6 linked regions of the Homo sapiens genome follow. The protein of the gene in region 1 purifies or fractionates together with the protein of each later gene. This does not show direct contact. Each region holds a gene or a part of one and is shown in the gene's direction. Other genes may lie near its edges.

Region 1 (3,500 bases):
GCAAATTACTTTATCTCTCTGAGCCTTGTTTTCCTTATTTTTATTTATTTATTTATTTTTTTGAGTCTCGCTCTGTCACCCAGGCTGGAGGGCAGTGGCACAATCTTGGCTCACTGCAACCTCCACCTCCTGGCAATTCTCCTGCCTCAGCCTCCTGAGTAGCTGGGACTACAGGCGCACGCCACCAGGCCTGGCTATTTTTTGTATTTTTAGTATAGGCGGGATTTCATCATATTGGCCAGGCTGGTCTCAAACTCCTGACCTCAAGTGATCCGCTGGCCTTGGCCTCCCAAAGTGTTGGGATTACAGGCATGAGCCACCACGCCCGGCCCTTGTTTTCCTTATCTATATCTGCAGTAATAACAGTATTTACCTCCAAGATTGCAAGGATGAAAGGATAATATATGTAAAAGACACCCTAGGTGCCGGCACCTGGTGGATACTCTATGATCACCTTCAGCTTCACACAGCAGGCTAAGGCCATTCTTTGGGAACAGGAAGACCAGGCTGTTCCCACTGTGTATGGGTGCTGCTGAGTACTCAGAGGCAGTGGGCAGTTAAGAGGAGAAGAGTTCTGGGATCAGAAAAGTGCCCAGGACTGGCCTTTTATTCATATGTTCAAGAGGTGTTCATTCATCCAGGCCCTGGATCAGGCTACTGGAGGTAAAAGAATAAGTGAAACAGAGCCAGTCCTGCCCTTGTGTAGCAGACAGGCTGTCTGGATACTGTCCATAAAAATAAAATGTGATCGGCTGGGCACGGTGGCTCACAACTGTAATCCCAGCTCTCTGGGAGGCCCAGGCGGGTGGATCACGAAGTCAGGAGTTTGAGACCAGCCTGACCAACATGGTGAAACCCTGTCTCTACTAAAAAAAAAAAAAAAAATTAGCCGGGTGTAGTGGCACGTGCCTGTAATCCTAGCTACTCAGGAAGCTGAGGCAGAAGAATTGCTTGAATCCGGGAGGAGGAGATTGCAGTAAGCCGAGATTGCACCACGGCACTCCAACCTGGGCGACAGAGTGAGACTCCATCTCAAAAAATAAAAATAAAAATAAATAAATAAAATGTGAGCACGTAGGTAATTTTTAATTTTCTGCCAGCTACTTTAATAGCAAAAAGAAATTAATTTTTTTGCTATTAAAATTAAGGTGGAATTTTTTTGTTTGTTTTTTTGAGATAGAGTCTCACTCTGTTGCCCAGGCTGGAGTGCAATGGTGCCATCTCAGCTCACTGCAACCTCTGCCTTCTGGGATCAAGCAATTCTCTTGTCTCAGCCTCCCAAGTAGCTGGGATTACAGGCACCCGCCACCATGCCTGGCTAATTTTTGACCATATTGGTCAGGCTGGCCTTGAGCTCCTCAGGTGATCCGCCCGCCTCGGCCTCCCAAAGTGCTGGGATTGTAACCATGAGTCACCGTGCCTGGCTAGAATTGATTTTAAATATGCATCTTGTTTAGCCCAATATATCCAAAGTATTATTTCAACAAGTAATCAATTTTCTTTTTTTTTTTTTTTTTGAGACGAAGTCTCACTCTGTAGCCCAGGCTGGAGTGCAGTGGCGCGATCTCGGCTCGCTGCAAGCTCCGCCTCCCGGGCTTACGCCATTCTCCTGCCTCAGCCTCCCGAGTAGCTGGGACTACAGGCGCCCGCCGCCACGCCCGGAGAATTTTTTGTATTTTTAGTAGAGACGGAGTTTCACCGTGTTAGCCAGGATGGTCTTGATCTCCTGACCTCATGATCCACCTGCCTCAGCCTCCCAAAGTGCTAGGATTACAGGCGTGAGCCACCGCGCCCGGCCAGTATTTTTAAATCATTGAGAGTTTTACATTTTTTTCATACTAAGCATTTGAAGTCTCGTGTGTATTTTATATGATCAGCACATCTCGCTTGGACAACTTTCTTGGCCACATGTGGCAAGCGGCTGCCATACTGGACAGTGTAGGTCTAGGAGACATTAATACTCACATCCACTAAACATCAAGGTACAGTTATTTTGAGTGCCACTAAGAGGTGAATGATGTTTCCAGAGACCATAACATGAACCCACTTGGTCTGTAGGTTAGGGGTGGCCTCTCTGTGGTGGGGGGAAGGGATGGGGGACAGGGGACACTTAACCCAGGTCATGAAGGATAAGTAGGAGTTACCACAGTGAAGATGGAGGTAGTGGGAGAGAACACCCCAAGCTGGGAGCAAGTTATGCTAGGATCAGGGTCTTTGGGGCTTCATTATTTATTTTTAGAGACAATGTCTTGCTTGAGTGCAGTGGTATAGTCATAGCTCCCTGTAACCTCAAACTCCTGGGCTCAAGCATCCTCCTGTCCCAAGCCTCCTGAGTAGCTGGGACTATAGGCACACACCACCACACCTGACTAATTTTTGTATTTTTTTTGTTCTGGGTTTTTTTTTTCTTTGAGACAGAGTCTCTGTCACCCAGGCAGGAGTGCAGTGGTGCAATCTTGGCTCACTGCAACCTCCGCCTCCTGGGTTCAAGTGATTCTCCTGTCTCAGCCTCCCGAGTAGCTGGGACTACAGGTGTGCACCACCACACCCGGCTAATTTTTGTATTTTTTAGTAGAGACAGGGTTTCACCGTATTGGTCAGGCTGGTGTTGAACTCCTGATCTCAGGTGATCCGCCCACCTTAGCCTCCCAAAGTGCTGGGATTTACAGGCATGAGCCTCGGCCCCTGGCCAGTCGCCAGAGTTTTCTAGTAGGTATGAGTTAGGTGAGAGTTGTGACGGTGTCAGAGACAGACTGGCAAATCGGGCCCTGGGAACCATCAGGAAGGGTTCTAGGGGAGGCTCATGGTTGTCAGAGGGTCTCCCCAGACACCCGAGCACCCACCCGCTTCGTGGATGATGAGGAGCTAGCGTATGTGATTCAGCGGTACCGGGAGGTGCACGACATGCTTCACACCCTGCTGGGGATGCCCACCAACATCCTGGGTGAGTGCCCCCAACCCTGATGGCCTGTCTCCCTGGGGTGGCTTCAGGGCCAGGGCAGGGCTTGCCTATCTCCACCACCCTCTGCATCACCTGGCTTGGTGCCTCAATTTCTGCTTTACCTGAACATCTTAGTAGCATCTTTGCCACATGTCCCCCTTCTTTCTCCCACTGCCCCTCAGGGCTCCTGCACTAATGGAGCAGCAGAGCCCATCTTCAAGGCTCCTGGTGTCTTTTTAGGCTTTAGCTGCCTCCCTGCTCTGAAACCTCAGTAGCTCCCTAAGGCCTGCAGGAACCATCCTGGAGTGTTTAGCCTGGCTTATGGGGTCATGGGGTCCTCTGCGCCCTGACCCCAGGCTTCCTTTCCATCCCCTACTCCCTTCTGTTCACTCTTGGGCTCTCTCCTGTACTCCAAGCCAAGTGCCCCAGGGCCCAGCACAGGCCAGGACTGGGCACAGCTGACCCCGTAGAGATTAGGGAGGAACAGTGCCTCTCTTTACCCTGCTGTGAGCACCACTGGCCTTTCCTTCAGATAGCTTGTTCACCTCCCAACACATCC
Region 2 (2,563 bases), on another chromosome or scaffold:
TGATTAAGGACCACATGCAGCGATGGGATCAGGCGTCCGCGCTGGCCAGAGTGCTGCTCGCTCATGTGCAGACCCTTACTGCGGTGAGGCCTGCGTGAGCCTGTGCTGTGCCTGGTGTCAGGGGACAGGCTCCGAGTCAGTCACAGTGTGCAGTCCTGCTGTGGGGACAGAGTGCAGCCATTGTTGGGTTAGTACAGTGGCGGGGATGTGCCTGCCGGCGTGATGATCAGGCAGGTCTTGACACAGCACAGACCTGAGCTGTGGGACTGGCCAGGAGAGCCAGGCTGCAGCTCAGGTGTAGGGCGTCTTGCAGTGAATTGCACTTGGAGATCTTCCACCTCTTGTGGAGGGGAGACGGCAGGCGGAGCCGGGGCTAGGCATTCCTGAGACAGGTGGAGGTGACAGCTTTGCTTGGGACAGAACTGCCAGACAGGATTGCCCATGTATCTGCCAGCCCTGGCCCCAGCAGGAGCCAGTTGGATGACTCATGGCTTCCACCTGCAGTTCACTTCACTGAAGAAGGCTGCCGGCCCAGGCCACGTGGTAAATCCCATGAGGTTCTCTCTGCCTGTGTGCCCCACTGCAGGGGAGGGAGGCAGTGAGTTTGCCATCTGCTGTGTGACATTGTGAGGGTGCGCAGAGCAGCTGGGGGTAGCCCTGATGCAGTTACTGCATTAGATGGACACTGTGAAGACGTGCAGCTATGTCATGGGCTCAGCAAGAAGGGCCCCTGGCGTCACACAGGGCACCCAGCCGCATCCTGGGCCTAGGGTCAGGGGCTCCTACAGCTGGAACCTGCACCTTCTGGGGCACAAGGTGCCTTCTTTGTGGCCACCACACCCCATGTCCAGCCCAGGCCTGGACAATGATGAGATGTGCTCAGGTGCTTGGTCAGGGCTGGCTTTGGTGGTTGGAGAATCGTATCTTCCTAGTGAGTTACACCATTGCTGGGCCTGCTCTGGGCTGCCCTCCCAGCATCTGCCTTCATGATGAGGCGTGACATGTGGGCTGTAACTTGTTGCCCAGCCTCATGGAGAAACTGTCTTTCTGTAGGTTGGTTCCTGTATACCTTGGGCCAGAGAGCAAACATAGGTGGCCTGAGAGAGCCCTGGTACGTGGTGGAGAAGGACAGCGTCAAGGGTGACGTGTTTGTGGTGAGTGGGCCGGCCTCTGAGACAGCACTGGGGCTGGTTCTGGCAGGGCCAGCAGTGCTTCCAGACCAGGGCTTGAGAAGGCCTCCAGCAGCCGTGGCTTCCTGGAGGCTGTGACTAACTCTGTTCCTGTCCTTGGTCCCCTGCCTTTCCTGGGACTGGCCATGGTGGCAGGAGAGTTTTAAGGTATTCATTAGGCTGAGTTGTATGCTGGTCTCTTAATCATCCCTGAACCCCGATACACAGATACAGTTTCTCCAATTTTATGAAAGAGGACAGCGACGCCCAGAGCTTGGGTGGCTCATCCGGTGGAGAGGGCATGGCCTCAGTGCCAAGGATGGTGCCCACCATGGTAGGATCCAGTGAGTTGTTGTCAGGCAGGTGCAGATGGCCAAGCCAGGATCAAACCAAGCCTTCCACCACAGTGGGGACCTTACCACTGTGACCCTGGCCTCAAAGCAGGGCCGCTCAGTGGCGGCAAGCTCACCCCACCTTCAGGGGACCTTGCCAGTGTCTAGAGGCATTTTTGGTTGTCACAGCTTGGGTGGAAAAGCAAGGACGCGGGTGCTGCTGCATCTGTGGGTCAGGCCGGGGATGCTGCTTGCCGTGTTCAGCACAGCCTCTTCCCTGAGTGACCCGGCCTCCACCTTGGCGCGTGGAGCTGAGAAGGCCCACTCTCAGCACCCTGGCTGCCGGCTCATGTTCTGGCACGAATGCTGGGGCGCCTTCTCTTAGACGGAGGCGGGGGCCAGCAGGCCCCACCCACCGATTCCAGGACATCTCCTTACTAGGAAGACCTGTGGGGAGAAAAGCCTGGCTGCGAATGAATTAAATGATCTAGATTTCAGTTTGCTGTGAGAAGACCAGAAGGGTTAACCAACGGCCTCCTGTCCCTGGACGGGTCTTGGTGCCTGCTTAGAACCCAAAGCCCTTAACTTCATGCTCCTCGTCCTGCTTCAGGGGCGGGGCTTGGCACAATCCCAGGAGGTGCCAGGTCTCAATGGCCCGAGGCCATGGGTGGGTGACAGGGAGCAGGGGCCTCAGAACCAACCTAGGGTATCTGGGGCCCCCCAGACCAGGGCCAGTCCTGGGGCACCTGTGGGAAGCCAGCAGCTACCAGTCCCTCCTTTCTCCTCAGCCATTTGGTGTGTGGAGGAATTCCTGGGGTGGCCTTGAGAGAAGAGCCCGTGGTGTGGCTGGCCCCTGTCCCTGCGAATAGAAAAACCAGTCCTCGAGGGGGGCCGTGCTGCTGCCCCACAGGTGGTTGCAGGTAGAGGGCCTGAGTCAGACTTGAACCTGCAGCATTCACTGTCATGGGCTCGGATCTCACCCCTGCCTCTTGCCCACTCTGACATGGTACTTCCTTCCTGGGCCTTAGTCTCCTCATCTGTAAAATGGGGATTCAAAGGCCC
Region 3 (4,300 bases), on another chromosome or scaffold:
TCACATAACCTGTAGGTACAGCCAGATTTCCTAATTATTAATCTATTGAAATATTTTACAGTTCACTAGATTACTAAATCCGGTTATCAATTAATGATGCACCTGACATACACCCTTCTAGTTTCATAAAAATCACCTCATTAGGCCGGGCGTGGTGGCTCACGCCTGTAATCCCAGCAATTTGGGAGGCCCAGGGGGTGCAGATCCCTCGAAACCAGCCTGGGCAACCTGGCGAAACCCCGTCTCTACCAAAAATACAAAAAAAAAAAAAAAAAAAAGCAGGTGCTGGCTGAGGTGGGAGGATCACCGGGGCCCCTGAGTTCAAGGCTGCAGTAAGCCGTGATCGCGCCACTGCACTTCAGCCTGGGCGACAGAGTGAGACCCTTTCTCAAAACGAACACACACAACAACACAGTAACAACACACCAACCCCCAAAACATCTTATTAAACTCTGTGGATCTACTCCATTTAAACCTAATTGTTTCAGGAAATAGTCTAAAAACATTTTTTTGTCCTGGAATGTAATGTGTATGTAGCCTCAGGGAATAACTCAGTTTATCAGGTTCTTGGCTGTTTTTCCACAGGTCCAAAAGGATAAATGGATAAAGTGATGCTGAAATAACTTAGAGAACCCGTATTCCAACGCTTCTATTTTAAAACAGTGAAGCAGTTTTTAAAATAGAAAAGTATCTACAGTTTTGCTTTCAAGCAAATAGCGTTAACGGAATCATTGCTATTCAAAACTATTTTTGAAGTATCGGTGTACATTTAAAAAAAATAATTTTTAAAAAAGAAAGCTGTCGTATTCTGGATTCCGCAACCCCCCCACCCCGCCTCGCCACTCGTCGCCCTCCCTCCACCTCCACCCTCCCATGGCTTAAGTCGCATAGCTGAAAGGATTTTGCTCATTTTTTCCAAAACACTTCACGTCTGGGTAGTAGCCAATCATGGAAAGTTTCAAGCAAATGTTACATTTGGGAGAGGGATGAAGCTTGTCCGGGGCTGCTCTCGGAGGAGTCGCCAGACGCCCTGACCTGGGGGCCAGATGCGAGCTGGGATCGGCTGAGTTCCGACAGCTCGGCCAGACTCAGCCCTGCCAAACCTGCTGACCTCACTGCCCTCGGCTGCGGGGGATCTCGCCCATGAGTCTCCCCAACAGCTCGAATTCCCAGAGTGGAGGAGCCCACTGCTTCATAAATGCGAGAACCCAGAGCCCCTAGTACCCAACTAGGCTAGCCTCGGAGTTGGCACGGCGTGCAGAAAGTGGCTACTGAGCAGCCGGGCCTGGCTCACCCGCTTCACACGTCAGTTTGACTCCTCTCCCCGCCCCCCACCAATCCCCCGCCCTACTCTCCGCGCACCCAGAGCCGAGAGAAATTTGACTGCCCTAATCGCCAATCAAAAGAGAGGTCGAGGATTTGAGCCAATCGCAGCGGGCGAAAGGGGCGGGCCGTCGGCGAGCGCTGAAGGTCTCTAGCCCTCCCCTGCGCTTTAGCCTCAGTGCGGAGCCTTAGGCGGAGCGAAGAGAACCGGTCGCGGCAATCCTAGCGCGCAGCAGCAGCAGCAGCAGCAGCAGCAGCAGCAGCAGCAGCAGCAGCACCCGCATCCGCTGCGGGAGTCCGAGCCGGAACCACACCCAAGTAGCTGCCCTTTCCTCTTCTGTCATCTCACCGCCCCACCACAGACCGCGTTCCCCGAGGAAACCGGCCGCCCACGCCCGGAGCATCCTCCCCTGTTGAGCGGGCGCTGACGGACCCGGCGGCATGATGCGGCTGCGAGGCTCGGGGATGCTGCGGGACCTGCTCCTGCGGTCGCCCGCCGGCGTGAGCGCGACTCTGCGGCGGGCACAGCCCTTGGTCACCCTGTGCCGGCGTCCCCGAGGCGGGGGACGGCCGGCCGCGGGCCCGGCTGCCGCCGCGCGACTCCACCCGTGGTGGGGCGGGGGCGGCTGGCCGGCGGAGCCCCTCGCGCGGGGCCTGTCCAGCTCTCCTTCGGAGATCTTGCAGGAGCTGGGCAAGGGGAGCACGCATCCGCAGCCCGGGGTGTCGCCACCCGCTGCCCCGGCGGCGCCCGGCCCCAAGGACGGCCCCGGGGAGACGGACGCGTTTGGCAACAGCGAGGGCAAAGAGCTGGTGGCCTCAGGTGAAAAGTGAGTGTCTCCGCGAGGCGCAGGAGGCCTCGTTCCTTTCGGGGCCCGGGCTCAGGCTGTGTGGGGCCCTGCGGTGGGGCGGGATAGGAGCCGAGGGTCTAGAAAAGAGAAAGAAAGAGGTGCCGGGCGGCCTGCGCCGTCTGCGCCATGTGATTAGGCCCGGCCCCGCCCGCGCCTTCCCCGCCCGCAACCCTCCGCCAGGCACCCACTTCCCTTCTCCGCCCCCGGCGGGGGTCGCCCTGGTGGGGCCGCGGTGGGGCCTGATGGGCTCGCCTGGCGTCCCCAGCGCCAGAGAGGCCGCTCCCCTGCCCGCGCTGCGTGCTCAGCTCCCTGGCTTGCGGCTGCAGCGCCTGGCCGCCCGCCCCAGCCATTCGTGGGCGATGCTGCACGAACATCTCCACCGAGTGACATTTAGGAGTTGGGCGTTCAGCAGAGCCTTTACCTTCCTGACTTGTCGCTTTTCCTGGCTCGTTTCCGCTCTGCCTGCCCTCCCTTGGTTTCTGCCATCATCCGGTTGGAAGCCAGATGTGACAGAGAGCTCTTTATATTTCGGGAGTGGCTACCTCAGGCACGTGTAGAGCCATCTGGGGCACCGGAAACAATGTTTCAGAAGTGAGATTAGGAGGAATCCGGTCATGTGGCCGAGAAGATGGGGCACGCAGTATAGACCACCTGTTTGCATAAGGGACCAGCTTTGGCTTGTCAGGTCTTCCGTGAGATGGGGAGATTTTTAGAAATAAAAGTTAAATAGCCAAGATGAAATGTGACGTAATACACTAACTCAGTGAAAAATCTGAGTTGAGTAGGTTTTGTGACTTCATTGTGATAGGATGTTGACTCATCCTGTATGTGTACGGCACAGTAGTTTAGTCTTAAAGCAAAACTGGTTTTTCTTAAACAATATGCAAAGCAGTCTCCTATATATTTTTGTCTTGTGTAATACAAATGGACCACTTTGTTTTCCCAAAATGGGTAAAAATTTACGGATCTGCTTTCATTATACCTTACTCTTTTTCTGGCTTTGTACGCTGACACTCTAACCTGTTTTGCTTCCCTTTTATTTCTGCTGCTATTTCCAGCTCTAGAGTTCCTTAAGTCAAACTGAAAGTGAGAACATTGTTATAATTTCAATCTCACGCCTGCTTGATGTTTTCCTGTAATTGAAGTTGGGACCTTCCAGAAACTTTTCTAAAGTTCTTCTCCCAGACTGAAAAAGATTATTTGAAAAAAATCACTTGATGATGGGCGAAATTTGTGGTATTTTGTGATGTTGGTTTTGTGCCACAAAATAGCGTCCTGACCATGGACAGGTTATTTAATATCTTGGGTTAGATGACTTAAATCCTTTCAAGTTCTAAAAAGCTATACTTCTGTTAAATTTGTACTTCTCTCATGTTTTAGGGACTAGAATGATAATTTAATCTCATCTGGGACTCACTTTTACTTTAACATCATCCGGTTTACCAAGGAAGTAACGAGTTTACATGCAAGTGCCCAAGGTACAGAATTGCAAAATGCAGTCACAACCGTTTAAAAGTTCATCTTAAAGGCTACAAGATGGGAACTGCATTCTAGTAAAATTATGTCTTCAGGTCTGTGTCTCTGCAGTGGCTCTAGTGCCTCTCTTTTTTTTCCTCTTTTGTCAAACAGGAAATTGAGCTTCTTCTGTGATTCACTTGTCCAGAAGTTTCTGGTTTCATTGCCTTTTTAATAAAAAATCACCTTTTAGCAAGGGCCTCAAGGTTGTGAAGAAAGTTTTTTAATTTGGTTAAAGTTTCTATTTCCTTAATGATCTGGTTTCCAAATGTAGCTTTCCCTCTTTGGCTCCTTTCATTTTGCCTTTATGTGACAAACATTTCTCTTATCCTGGGAGGTAAGCTCCCAGTTGATCCTGTTATCCTTTCTAATGCTTAGCCTGCAAAGCATAGGTCATCCCTCAGTCAGCAGTCCACCTGGTATGCTAGCACTCACTCAGGACTGTGCCAGATTTTATGTAGTATTATTAAAAGAAATAACCATGAGAAAATTAAATTAACATTTTGTAAAAGGCTTAGAACAATATTTGGCGTGTGTTAAATGACACATAACTATTTATTAAATAAATGAGAAAACATTGCTTCTTCATTATTGTAAAGCCTGTTAAAGAGATT
Region 4 (4,208 bases), on another chromosome or scaffold:
CAATAAGCATGGAGTGCAGCCACCCACATGAATATTCATAGCTCCTCCTATAGCCTGTTGAATATGTATGTTTAGCCAACCCCTTCAGCATAAAGCTCCTGCCCCAACCCCTCCTGCTTCTAAATGTCTGTCTCTGGTGTTTCCCAGAGGCTGCTCTTCCCAGGCTGCGGGATGGCTACCTTGCTGCCTGTCACCCTTAACAAGAAATAAAATCTCCTTTCCAAATTTATACATTGTGGCCAGGCGCGGTGGCTCACACCTGTAATCCCGGCACTTTGGTACGCCAAGGCGGGCGGATCTCCTCAGATCGGGAGTTCGAGATCAGCTGACCAACATGGAGAAACCCTGTCTCTACTAAAAATACAAAAATTAGCCAGGCATAGTGGTGGGCGGCTGTAAGCCTGACCAACATGGAGAAACACTGTCTCTACTAAGAATACAAAAATTAGCCTAGGCGTAGGGGTGGGTGCCTGTAATCGCAGTTACATGGGAGGCTGAGGCAGGAGAATCTTTTGAACCTGGGAGGCAAAGGTTGCGGTGAGCTGAGATTACGCCACTGTACTCCAGCCTGGGTAACAGAGCAAGTCTCCGTCTCAAAACAAACAAACAAACAAAAAAACACAAAAAAACAAAAGCAAACAAAAAAACCAAATGCATCCCTTGTGTAATTTTTAGGTCACCGCGCCATGGGAACACGCTACCAGGGGAAGGGAGCTGTGAGACGCGCAGGGAGGCTCCAGACAGGCTGGCCTGGGACACCAGCCACTGCTCTTCCATGACATGGGGACAAGAGGAGGCGAGAGCTCAGCCCACCAGGGAGGAACTCCGGGCAGGAGATGGGGAAGAAGGAGAAGCAGGAAGGAAAGAGCTCAGTGTGGGGGCGCGCATGGCATCCCGGTGGGACATCTGAGGCCCACACCCACCTGCTGTCCCTCCCTCCCACGGTGGCCTCCGAGGGTGAAGGCCTGGGGAGAGGCAGACACCTGGCCCTTTACTCTCCCTCCCTGTCCCCATGGCCGCTGGGTGGGGGCCGTCTCTGGGATGATCCCCGAGGGCAGGATCCGGGAGTCCCTGCGGAGGCATCAGCCTGTCTGTCTTGATGGTGGAGAGGAGGCTCCAGCTGGGCGGGACCACCAGGGGAGGGGCTTGTGCTCTGCTGGCTCAGCCTGGTGTGGACCCACCTCGCGGGCGCTGGCTGCAATGACTTTCTCTTTCCCTTTGCAATTGCCTTGGGTCCTGCCGCACAGAGCGGCCTGTCTTTATCAGAGGTCCCTCTGCCAGGGGGAGGGCCCCAGAGAAAACCAGAAAGAGGGTGAGAGACTGAGGAAGATAAAGCGTCCCAGGGCCTCCTACACCAGCGCCTGAGCAGGAAGGGGGAGGGGCCATGACTACGAGGCCCTGGGAGGTCACTTTAGGGAGGGCTGTCCTGAAACCTGGAGCCTGGAGCAGAAAGTGAAACCCTGGTGCTCCAGACAAAGATCTTAGTCGGGACTAGCCGGCCAAGGATGAAGCCTCACTTCAGGTACCGCTGCCCGCTCTACCCGCTGGGCCCCTCTGCTGCCCCTTCCTGCCTGGTGGCTCTGCTGGGCGTCAGCCCTGGCCTCCCCCTGCCCCAGCCCCAGCCCTGGGCTCCCTCCCCTCTGGCTCCCCTGCCCCCGCCACTCCCAGCCAGGCTCTTTTTCCTGCTCTGTGGTTGCCCCACTGCTGCTTCTGAATAGGCCGCTTCCCCACCTGCCCCAGCCCAGGTGCCCTGCTGAGACTCTCCCCCGCCACCGAAAGTCATGGCAGGGCTGGTGCTCCCGGCCCTGGGAGGGTGCTCCCTCTGTGTTCTTTCCGCCATTCCTGAACTCTGGAACTGGGAGAATTGAACCAAAGGATGATTAGAGCAATGTGGAATTTTGTTCACAGTGCTTTGATGGATTTTCTGTAACATTTACTTTGCTTAAATAGCAAGTCTTAGGAGAGGGTGTGGGGAGGGAATGGTCTCTGAAGCACAAGATAAATCGTATCTTCCAAGGATGTCTCCACTGTGGGCAGAGGAGGATGCAGATGACCCCAAACACACGCTCCTCCTCCACTATCAGCATTCACTGTTTATAAATGACACGAGTAACATGGAATATAGTGGCCGGGTGCGGTGGCTCACACCTGTCATCCCAGCACTTTGGTAGGCTGAGGTGGGTGGATTGCCTGAGGTCGGGAGTTCGAGACCATCCTGATCAACATGGATAAACCCTGTCTCTACTAAAAATACAAAATTAGCCGGGTGTGGTGGCGGGCGCCTATAATCCAGCTACTCCACAGGCTGAGACAGGAGAATCGCTTGAACCCAGGAGGCGGAGGTTGCAGTGAGCCGAGATCGCCCCATCGCACTCCAGCCTGGGCAACAAGAGCCAAATTTCGTCTCAAAAGAAAAAAAAACAAAAACAAAAAACATGGAATATATGGGAAAAAAACTCAATGATCAGGAGAAATGCTATTATTTTAAAATTTAGTAAGAAGAGAGTCTGGTCCCCAATGGCTCCCTCCTGCAAGGCTGGTGACACAGAGACTGGACAGGGCTGGTCTGGTAAGAGGCCCCAGCCCCATCCGTCCCCAGCTCTGTGGCCTGGGCAGGTTACCCCATCTCTCTGCGCCTCTGGCACCTCCTCTGTAAGATGGGAATGGCCCGTGCGGGCCTAGGGCAGCCTCACATGAGCTCACATCCGCGCAGCACTTAGAAGAGTGGCCTGGGCCTCAGAATTCGGTTCTACCATGATTTAACAATAGTAATATACAGAGGTGAAATGTCAGAAGGAACTGGCTGAAAGGTTAAAATCTATTATTTTGGGGTGAATAGTTTTATTCTCTCTCTCTTTTTTTTTTTTTTTTTTGAGATGGAGTTTCGCTCTTGTAGCCCAGGCTGGAGTGCAGTGGCACGATCTCGGCTCACTACAACCTCCGCCTCCCAGGTTCAAGCGATTCTCCTGCCTCAGCCTCCACAGTGGCTGGGATTACAGGCACCCACTACCACGCTTGGCTAATTTTTATATTTTTAGTAGAGACTGGGTTTCACCATGTTGGTGAGACTGGTCTCAAACTCCTGACCTCAAGTGATGGGCCTACCTCGGCCTCCCAAAGTGCTGGGATTACAGGCATGAGCCATAATGTCCAGCCAAGAACTTTGTTCTCTTTTGCATTTTACTAATGCGTTGGAGAATGGGTGGGAGAAATACTGGGAAGGTGGGGAATGTACTCCTGGAACGACCAGAGCTGGACCCTGAGCTGGAAGAGGTCAGCCTGCCCCTGCTGCCCATGCCAGCATCCCCTTTTCTTGCTCTCTCCCCGGTCTTCCTGCCTGGGAAGGAAGCAAAAATTCTCAGGGCTGTGGAGGGGTTGGGGAGGCCCAGAGCCATGCAGGGGGCTGTGTTTAGTGGACATCAGCCCTGAGGGCTCCCGGGAGCGCTCTCTACATTGGCTGGTTTCTCTCTTGTGTCTTCAGAAACACAGTGGAGCGAATGTATCGAGACACATTCTCCTACAACTTTTATAATAGACCCATCCTTTCTCGTCGGAATACCGTCTGGCTGTGCTACGAAGTGAAAACAAAGGGTCCCTCAAGGCCCCGTTTGGACGCAAAGATCTTTCGAGGCCAGGTACCACCCGGACTTCAATCACTTTGCAGGCAGGAGCTAAGCCAGCTGGGAAAGCAAACCACGCACTGATAAGTGAAGTGCCCGGCGGCGGGCTATCCAGTGTGTCCTTCTCTCCCACACTTTCCAAGTCCGTGGCCCTGACCTTCCTGCTGGACCGTCCTGGGATCGGATCGTGGAGGGGGTTTGCCTTTGCACAAAAGGCCTTGTGTTTTTTTTTTTTTTTTTTTGAGACAGAGTTTCACTCTTGTTGCTCAGGCTGGAGTGCAATGACGCGATCTCGGCTCACAGCAACCTCTGCCTCCTGGGTTCAAGCGATGCTGTCGCCTAAGACTCCCGAGTAGCTGGGATTACAGGTGCCCACCACCACGCCCAGCTAATTTTTTTTTTTTTTGTATTTTTAGTAGAGACAGGATTTTACCATATTCACCAGGCTGGTCTCGAACTTCTGACCTCAGGTGATCCACCTGCCTCGGCCTCCCAAAGTGTTGGGATTACAGGTGTGAGCCACAGCGCCGGCCTAATTTTAATATTTAATTAATCCAATGTGGCTAACATATTACTTCAACATTAATT
Region 5 (3,500 bases), on another chromosome or scaffold:
AGTGCAGTGGCGTGATCATGGCTCACTGCAGCCTTGACTTCCTGGGCTCAGGCGATTCTCCCACCTCAGCCTCCTGAATACCTGGGACTACAGACACGCTCCACCATGCTTGGCTAATTTTTCTATTTTTTTTGTAGAGATGGGGTTTCTCTGTGTTGCCCAGGCAGGTCTCAAACTCCTGGGCTCAAGTGATCCTCCCACCTCGGCCTCCCACAGTGCTATGATTGCTGGTGTGAGCTACCACACCTGGCCTTATTTTATTTTTACTTATTGGTTTACTTTTTTGTCTGTATCCTCACTAAATAGTAAAAGTAAACTCTCTTAGAGCAACTCCATGTCTGTCTTGTTCTTGGTTGTATCCCTAGAGCCCAGCACAGCGCCTGGCACATAGAGCCGCTTGATACATTTCTCTTGAACAGTTGGTCAGTGGCTATATACCTGGGAGGGGGCAAGCCACCCGGAAATGGTAAAATGGACTGTCCCCTTTTCCAGTGCCCTGCATTGTTACACATTTGCCTCTACTTCCCTTCATTCTAAAATGGTGTCGTTGCCCTTCTTTAACTCCTTTCTTCAGCTGTGACCTTAGAACTTCTTTCTTATCTCCCCAGCCTGCTTTAATCTGTCTCCCTTGAGTTCCTGTAGGACTTTGTGCCCTCTTTCCTTTTACAGATGAGGAATATCTAAGTCATATATAAATTATAACATAGTCAAGAGCAAGGCAGTGAAGTCAGACAGACCTGGGGTCAAATCCTAGCAATCGCACTCAGTATTTGACTGGGGTAAGTCACTGCATCCCTGAACCTCAGAAGACAGAATGCACTTTGTCAGTGGCAGGTCCAACTCTGTGTAGCACTTTTTGACCTTGGCTGACCAGATTTTGCCAGGGCCAGCTGGTAGAAGCGGAGCGTCTAGCGCATTGGGTAGGATCCTAAGTGTTTAGGCATAGGCACAGTCAGAGAAGGTGTCCTAGCAGAAGGTGAACATAAGCTGGGCCTTCCAGAACAGACAGGATTTGGATGAGCAAGGAAAAGCAGAGTGTATTCCCCAGCTTGAGCAGAGTTTGCAAAGGCAGAAATAAACATGGCATGTGCAGGATAAAGAATTCTGTAGTTATAATTGACCCACATTTAGAAAACTGAGGAATAAGGTTGGAGAGAAATGTGAAATTGAGTCTTGAAAACCAGACTGAGGAGTTTGGTAAAAGTAAACTTGTGCTAAAAGTATTGAGGAATCTCTGCAATTTTTTTGAGCAGGAGAGTGATGTAAAATAATATTTTAGGAAGAGCAGCCTGGTGAAGATGGCTTAGAAAGACAAGGTGAACAGCAAAGAGGTGATAACAGATGTCTAGGCAAGAGGGGAGAGCATATAGGTGATGTCCCCCCTACCCACCACTCTCTGAGGATACCTGTGTATTGGCAGCACAAAGTTTCCCCGTCTGGAGCGGTGGGAGTTTGCTGCTGTTTGGTAGACTTTTTGGCATTACCTTTACTGCGTGGATGAGACTTTTAGGCTTGCCTTGGCCCATGGTATATCTAGATAGCTCTTAGATGATCTGCAGAGTCTCTTTTCTGTCACCTCCATACCTTGTTTCATGAAAGAAACTAGATTAGGTAGGAACGGAGCAGTGTTTAAGATGCAGTCTCAGAAAGCTTCCCCAGCTCTGCACTTACTAGCAGTGTCATCTCAGTCAGGTTATTCAACATCTTTGAACTTCAGTATTCTAATGATACCTAGGGATGGCGTTAGGAATTAATTAAGGGGCAATACTGGACATAAAGCACATTTTCACTAAGTGTTGGTAATCAGTAGTAGTATAATAGTAGCAATAATACTAACATCTGTAGAATATGTACAATAGTATCCACCTTAGGAGTTCTAGTAGAATAGAATGTGTGAGAAGCCTACTACAGGTACCTGGCACACTGTGGACACTCAAGAAATGGGAGTTGTTTTTGACATTCTTATTTAGAAACAGGTCCAAAGTCCCTCCCAATCCTCTTGCATAACAAGAACTTATCTTTTCCCCTGCCTTCCTCTCAAGGACCCCAAGCCCCAATTCCCTAACTCTGTCCTCTCTCACAGCCAGTATGACCTTCGAGAGAACAGCAAACACTCGGAGGTGCTGATTGACCTGACAGAGTACTGTGGCCAGCTGGTGGAGGCCAAGTGCCTCACTGTCAACCCCCAGGACAACAACTGCCTGGCAGTTGGGGCCAGCGGGCCCTTCGTGAGGCTCTATGACATCCGCATGATCCATAACCACAGGTATGAATAGTTCAGCCTCCTGTCTCCTGTGAGTAAGTCCCCAGAGAACCTACTGCCCCTTTCCCTCACTGCCATTGCCATGCCCTCTTCTTCTATCACAGCTCACTGCAGCCTCAACCTCCCAGGCTCAAGCGATCCTCCCATCTCAGCCTCTCAAGTAGCTGAGACTACAGTCACACGCCACCTCGCTTGGCTAATTTTTTAATTTTTTTATAGGGGCGGGGTCTTTCCTTGTTGCCCAGGCTGGTCTCAAACTCGAGCTAAAGCAATCTTTCCACCTCGACCTCCCAAAGTGCTGGGACTACAAGCATGAGCCACTGTGCCTGGCCCCTTCTTTTATTTATTTATTTATTGTTTTACTTTTTTTTTTTTTTTTTTTTTTGAGACAGAGTCTTGCTCTGTCACCCGTGTTGGAGCGCAGTGGCACAATCTCAGCTCACTGCAACCTCTGCCTCCCGGGTTCAAGCTGTTGTCCTGCCGAGTAGCTGGGATTACAGGCACCTGCCACCACACCTGGCTAATTTTTGTATTATTAGTAGAGACGGGGTTTCACCATGTTGACCAGGCTAGTCTTGAACTCCTGACCTCAGGTGATCTGCCCGCCTCGGCCTCCCAAAGTGTTGGGATTACAGACGTCAGCCACCACACCCAGCCTGGCCCCTTCTTCTTTATGAAATGGACTTTCTTCAATTTTGTGATTTTTTAAAAAACTTAATCCTCGCTTATGTTGGAAAATATGAAAAGTATAAATTAGGCCGGGCGTGGTGGCTCACGCCTGTAATCCCAGCACTTTGGGAGGCCGAGGCAGGCGGATCACGAGGTCAGGAGATCGAGACCATCCTGGCTAACACGGTGAAACCCCGTCTCTACTAAAAATACAAAAAATTAGCCGGGCGTGGTGGCGGGTGCCTGTAGTCCCAGCTACTGGGGAGGCTGAGGCAGGAGAATGGCGTCAACCTGGGAGGCGGAGCTTGCAGTGAGCAGAGATCCTGCCACTGCACTCCAGCCTGGGTGGCAGAGTGAGACTCAGTCTCAATTAAAAAAAAAAAAAAAAAAGTATAAATTACCCATAATCTCTTACATAAATTCCTTATGATTTCCTTATATTTATTTATTCTTATAATTTCTTATATAAATCTCTTATAGTGTCTTTCTTAAAGAAATCACTGTATATAATATTTCCTGCTAGTTCTTATAACACTCAGAACCCCCACAGCACTCTCAGACCTGAGTT
Region 6 (3,500 bases), on another chromosome or scaffold:
GGGTGTGGGGTCATTAAGCCTCTGTGCCTCAGCTCCCATCTCTTTGAACGGCGATGCCATGGTAACTTAGCACGTGCAGAGCCTTGGGAGCCATGCCGGCCACCTGCTCTTGTTATTAGCAGACTACAACTCACGGTACCAGCAAACACTGATGGAGCACCTTTTATACCAGAACAATGTATATGCGTTAAATTTAATCTGCCTAACAACACTATGAGATATGTATAAATATTATATCCTTATAGAGGAAAAAAACAGAGATTTAAATAACTTGTCCAGGATCATCCAAGCTAGCCCGTGGCAGAGCTGGGATTCAGACTCTGAAATTCTGGCTCCAAAGCCGTGATGCTGGTCTTGGCCATGGTAGCTTCCTGTTCATATGCACTCTACTACTCCTTCTCACATGAGCAGCCGGGGGTAGGGAGAGGGCAGGCAGGGATCTTCCCACACACTGACAGGGTCCGGACAAACCCCATGGGCGTGGTACCCCCAGCCGTGTTGCTGTGTCCGGCCTACCAGAGTGAGGCGTGGCAGTATGGGGCCTGGCCTTTGCTCGCTCTTGGTGTCCAGTCTGCCATGCTCCCCTGTCAGAAGGTCTAGGCTGCTGTTGATGTCTGCAATGTAGTGTTTTGGGTATCCAAGATTGATATATGCAGTTGCAAGAGAATATCTGTCTGTGGTCAGGTTCCCTAGAAGCAGCATCTAAGGTAAAAATTCTTGTGCAAGTGATTTATTGAGGGAATGTTCCAGAAAATCATGCGAGGCAGTAAGGGCAGAGGAAAGCAAAGCAAAAGTAAAGGTTCAGGAGAAGTCTAGCCTGGGGCTGCTCCCAGGGTGGGTTTTGGAGTATTAACTGCACCCTCCAATTATACCTGCCTGTCCCCACCTCTGTCAGCCTTTGGTTTCAGTGGCCCCTGGGGTGGGGTGGAGGACCCACCAGGCATAATCCCTCGGCCTCTTTGTGTACAGGAGCTCTTATCCATCCACAGCAAGCAAGGATGGGACAGTGCAGGCCGTTATCATCCAGCCCTTGCTGCAGCTGGAGGACAGGGCACCAGCCACAGGGGTCTGAGCAGGGCACCCACAGCATCTGTCCAGAGACCTGCAAAGACAGGAATGCAAAGAAGGCAATTAAGTGTCTTAAGAGGAAGCTGGGGTTATCAGCTCTCTCACAAGAGCTTTGTCCACTGTCCAGAGGTGGTCAGGGTGGGAGGGGAGTGAGGAGAGACCAGCTGAGCACACACACCCTGCTCCCCACAGATCAACCCAGAAGACCCTGGGTTGAAGCATCTCTCAGCCACGCCCTGTGGAGTCTGGCTGGGCTTTAGCTTGCAGAAAGCTCCAGAACATCTTTGAAAGGCAATGGGGCGAGGGTCAGGCCGAGAGGCAAGTTCCAGTTCTGGCAGAGCATGCATACAGAGTACCATTCTTACACAGCCACTCTTAACGCACAGTGACATGCACCCACCCATGAGCTTATCCATAACTCTTTTTGTACATGTGTTTTTTTTCCTGGCCCCTAACAAAAGCATTTGTTGAAAAACTATTGATAAACAAGCAGGCCCCAAACAATTCAAACATCTTATTAAATACAGTAAATCTGAGGCAGACACTAGAGTAGCCCAGAGTCATGAGCTACAATGGGGGCAGTTCATGTCTGGCAGCCAGAATCCCCTTGAACTGATGGCTGGACGCAGGCTCTACCTGGGACCAGCTTGAAGTGCTATCCTGAAGCTGCAGACTGCAGGGCCGGCCAGACCCTTTTTCAGCCTCTCCTCTTCCCACCTCTGTATCCCACACAGGCATCTGGTGATGTTCTCCAGGTGTTTCTGTGGCAGTTCTGGGAGCTACTGGGTGATTGCAAGATTAGTTTTTTTTTCTAAGTTGACTTTCTATGTGGTGCCTGAATGACGTTTTCTTTTTTTGTTCAGTAGGAATCCTTTTTTATAGAAGTAATAAAGTCATTACACTTAAAAACAAAGTGAAAGTGTGGTGGGAGTGGGTGATGGAAAATCGAGCAGCTGGTAGGGGACACAAGCTCTGCAATTCCCTCTGTGTCCCTGGAATAGTGGCCTCCCCACTCTGAACTCATCACTAATCTGAGACTCCCTGCTTCTTCCTCATCTGAAGGTTGGAGACAAGGCTGGAGCGCCCAGCACAGCACCCCTTGTGGGACACCTTCATCACTGCCTCAGGTCCGACCACAGGAACTGTGAAATCCTTCCTTTTGGCCGGGCGCAGTGGCTCATGCCTGTAATCCCAGCACTTTGGGAGGCCAAGGTGGATGGATCATGAGGTCAGGAGTTCGAGACCAGCCTGACCAATGTGGTGAAACCCCGTCTCTACTAAAAATACAAACAAAAATTAGTCGGGCATGGTGGTGCGCGCCTGTAATCCCAGCTATTCAGGAGGGCTGAGGCAGGAGAATCGCTTCAACCCGGGAGGCGGAGGTTGTAGTGAGCCGAGATCGCACCACTGCACTCCAGCCTGGGCAACAGAGCAAGACTCTGTCTCAAAAAAAGAAAAGAAAAGAAAAGAAATCCTTCCTTTTGCAGCTGCTGGTGAAGAATATTCAGCTGGAGGATGGCAAAATGATCCTGGCCTCGAACTTCTTTAAGGGGGCAGCCAGCAGTGTCCTTGAGCTGACAGAGGCAGAGCTGGTTACTGCGGAGGCTGTGCGGGTAAGAGGCAACTTCAGGGCTGCCATCCAGTTGGGCAGGTTGTGCCGTGCACATGTGTTCTGCAAATCACACTCCCCAGAGTTGGGCAGCGCCAGCCCTCTGTGGGTGTCTGTTTTGGCTCCAGGTGCAGTGTTGGTTCTATCTCGTCTTGGAGCTTTCTGTTGTCTTCTTGCTGCTCCTTCCTCTGCAACTGGGGCCCTGGGATCTGGCCAGTTCAGTCTGACTCTTCTAGGGGCTCATTGTCAACACTTAATAAGTGAAACAGAAGCTCCTGGAATATTTGAAAGAGTCAGGTGTCAAGCCCATGTCCCTGTGATTAGAATGTGAGCACTGGAGCCTTCCAGAAAGGCTGCACCAGAGGCAGCATCCCGGGCTGTGACCAACACAAGCTGCCCATAAGGCACACCTGGTCTCCAATCCAGCTTTGCCCCAATATGATGCTGTAGGGAGCTTTCGTCTCTAAGACTCAGTCTTCTCAACATGAATTTCCATCCATGCTCACTTCCTGGAATTTGTTCCTGACCCTTCATGCTCCCTCCCACTGTATCCTTCTTCCCTGGGTGGAGAGAAGAGATCTGGGGGAAGACCTTCAAGAGAGAAGGAACAGCAAATGGCAAGGCCCTAACAGGGCAGAGGCCTCCCTGTGTTCAGGGAGTCACCATGGGAGGGCACTGTAGCTGGAGCCCAGGGGGTGAGGGGCAGAGTCAGGTGGGCACAGCTGGGGACCTTGGGTGTTAACAGCACATGTGCGGCAAGGCTCAGCAAGGATGGACATGAGGCATTTGTGTGATCCAAAGGTGCTGAGAGCCAGCAACTTCC

What was found.
Region 2: the proteins of COQ4 (region 1) and TRMU purify together in Homo sapiens (affinity purification with mass spectrometry; one large-scale study listed by BioGRID and IntAct). This does not show direct contact.
Region 3: the proteins of COQ4 (region 1) and GLS purify together in Homo sapiens (affinity purification with mass spectrometry; one large-scale study listed by BioGRID and IntAct). This does not show direct contact.
Region 4: the proteins of COQ4 (region 1) and APOBEC3F purify together in Homo sapiens (affinity purification with mass spectrometry; one large-scale study listed by BioGRID and IntAct). This does not show direct contact.
Region 5: the proteins of COQ4 (region 1) and WDTC1 purify together in Homo sapiens (affinity purification with mass spectrometry; one large-scale study listed by BioGRID and IntAct). This does not show direct contact.
Region 6: the proteins of COQ4 (region 1) and ALDH1L1 purify together in Homo sapiens (co-immunoprecipitation; one large-scale study listed by IntAct). This does not show direct contact.

Annotation. Positions count from the first base shown.
Region 1 is NC_000009.12:128,329,339-128,332,838, forward strand, and holds part of COQ4 (ubiquinone biosynthesis protein COQ4 homolog, mitochondrial isoform 1 precursor), read left to right. Parts: intron 1-2,814; coding exon 2,815-2,944; intron 2,945-3,500. UniProt on the Homo sapiens protein: Lyase that catalyzes the C1-decarboxylation of 4-hydroxy-3-methoxy-5-(all-trans-decaprenyl)benzoic acid into 2-methoxy-6-(all-trans-decaprenyl)phenol during ubiquinone biosynthesis.
Region 2 is NC_000022.11:46,352,714-46,355,276, forward strand, and holds part of TRMU (mitochondrial tRNA-specific 2-thiouridylase 1), read left to right. Parts: intron 1-1,053; coding exon 1,054-1,154; intron 1,155-2,563. UniProt on the Homo sapiens protein: Catalyzes the 2-thiolation of uridine at the wobble position (U34) of mitochondrial tRNA(Lys), tRNA(Glu) and tRNA(Gln).
Region 3 is NC_000002.12:190,879,321-190,883,620, forward strand, and holds the start of GLS (glutaminase kidney isoform, mitochondrial isoform 1 precursor), read left to right. Parts: upstream 1-1,500; 5' UTR 1,501-1,764; coding exon 1,765-2,150; exon of another isoform or gene 2,151-2,248; intron 2,249-2,592; exon of another isoform or gene 2,593-2,668; intron 2,669-4,300. UniProt on the Homo sapiens protein: Catalyzes the first reaction in the primary pathway for the renal catabolism of glutamine. Plays a role in maintaining acid-base homeostasis. Regulates the levels of the neurotransmitter glutamate, the main excitatory neurotransmitter in the brain.
Region 4 is NC_000022.11:39,039,456-39,043,663, forward strand, and holds the start of APOBEC3F (DNA dC->dU-editing enzyme APOBEC-3F), read left to right. Parts: upstream 1-1,408; 5' UTR 1,409-1,505; coding exon 1,506-1,522; intron 1,523-3,481; coding exon 3,482-3,635; intron 3,636-4,208.
Region 5 is NC_000001.11:27,290,132-27,293,631, forward strand, and holds part of WDTC1 (WD and tetratricopeptide repeats protein 1), read left to right. Parts: intron 1-2,083; coding exon 2,084-2,266; intron 2,267-3,500. UniProt on the Homo sapiens protein: May function as a substrate receptor for CUL4-DDB1 E3 ubiquitin-protein ligase complex.
Region 6 is NC_000003.12:126,149,587-126,153,086, reverse strand, and holds part of ALDH1L1 (cytosolic 10-formyltetrahydrofolate dehydrogenase), read left to right. Parts: intron 1-2,555; coding exon 2,556-2,681; intron 2,682-3,500. UniProt on the Homo sapiens protein: Cytosolic 10-formyltetrahydrofolate dehydrogenase that catalyzes the NADP(+)-dependent conversion of 10-formyltetrahydrofolate to tetrahydrofolate and carbon dioxide.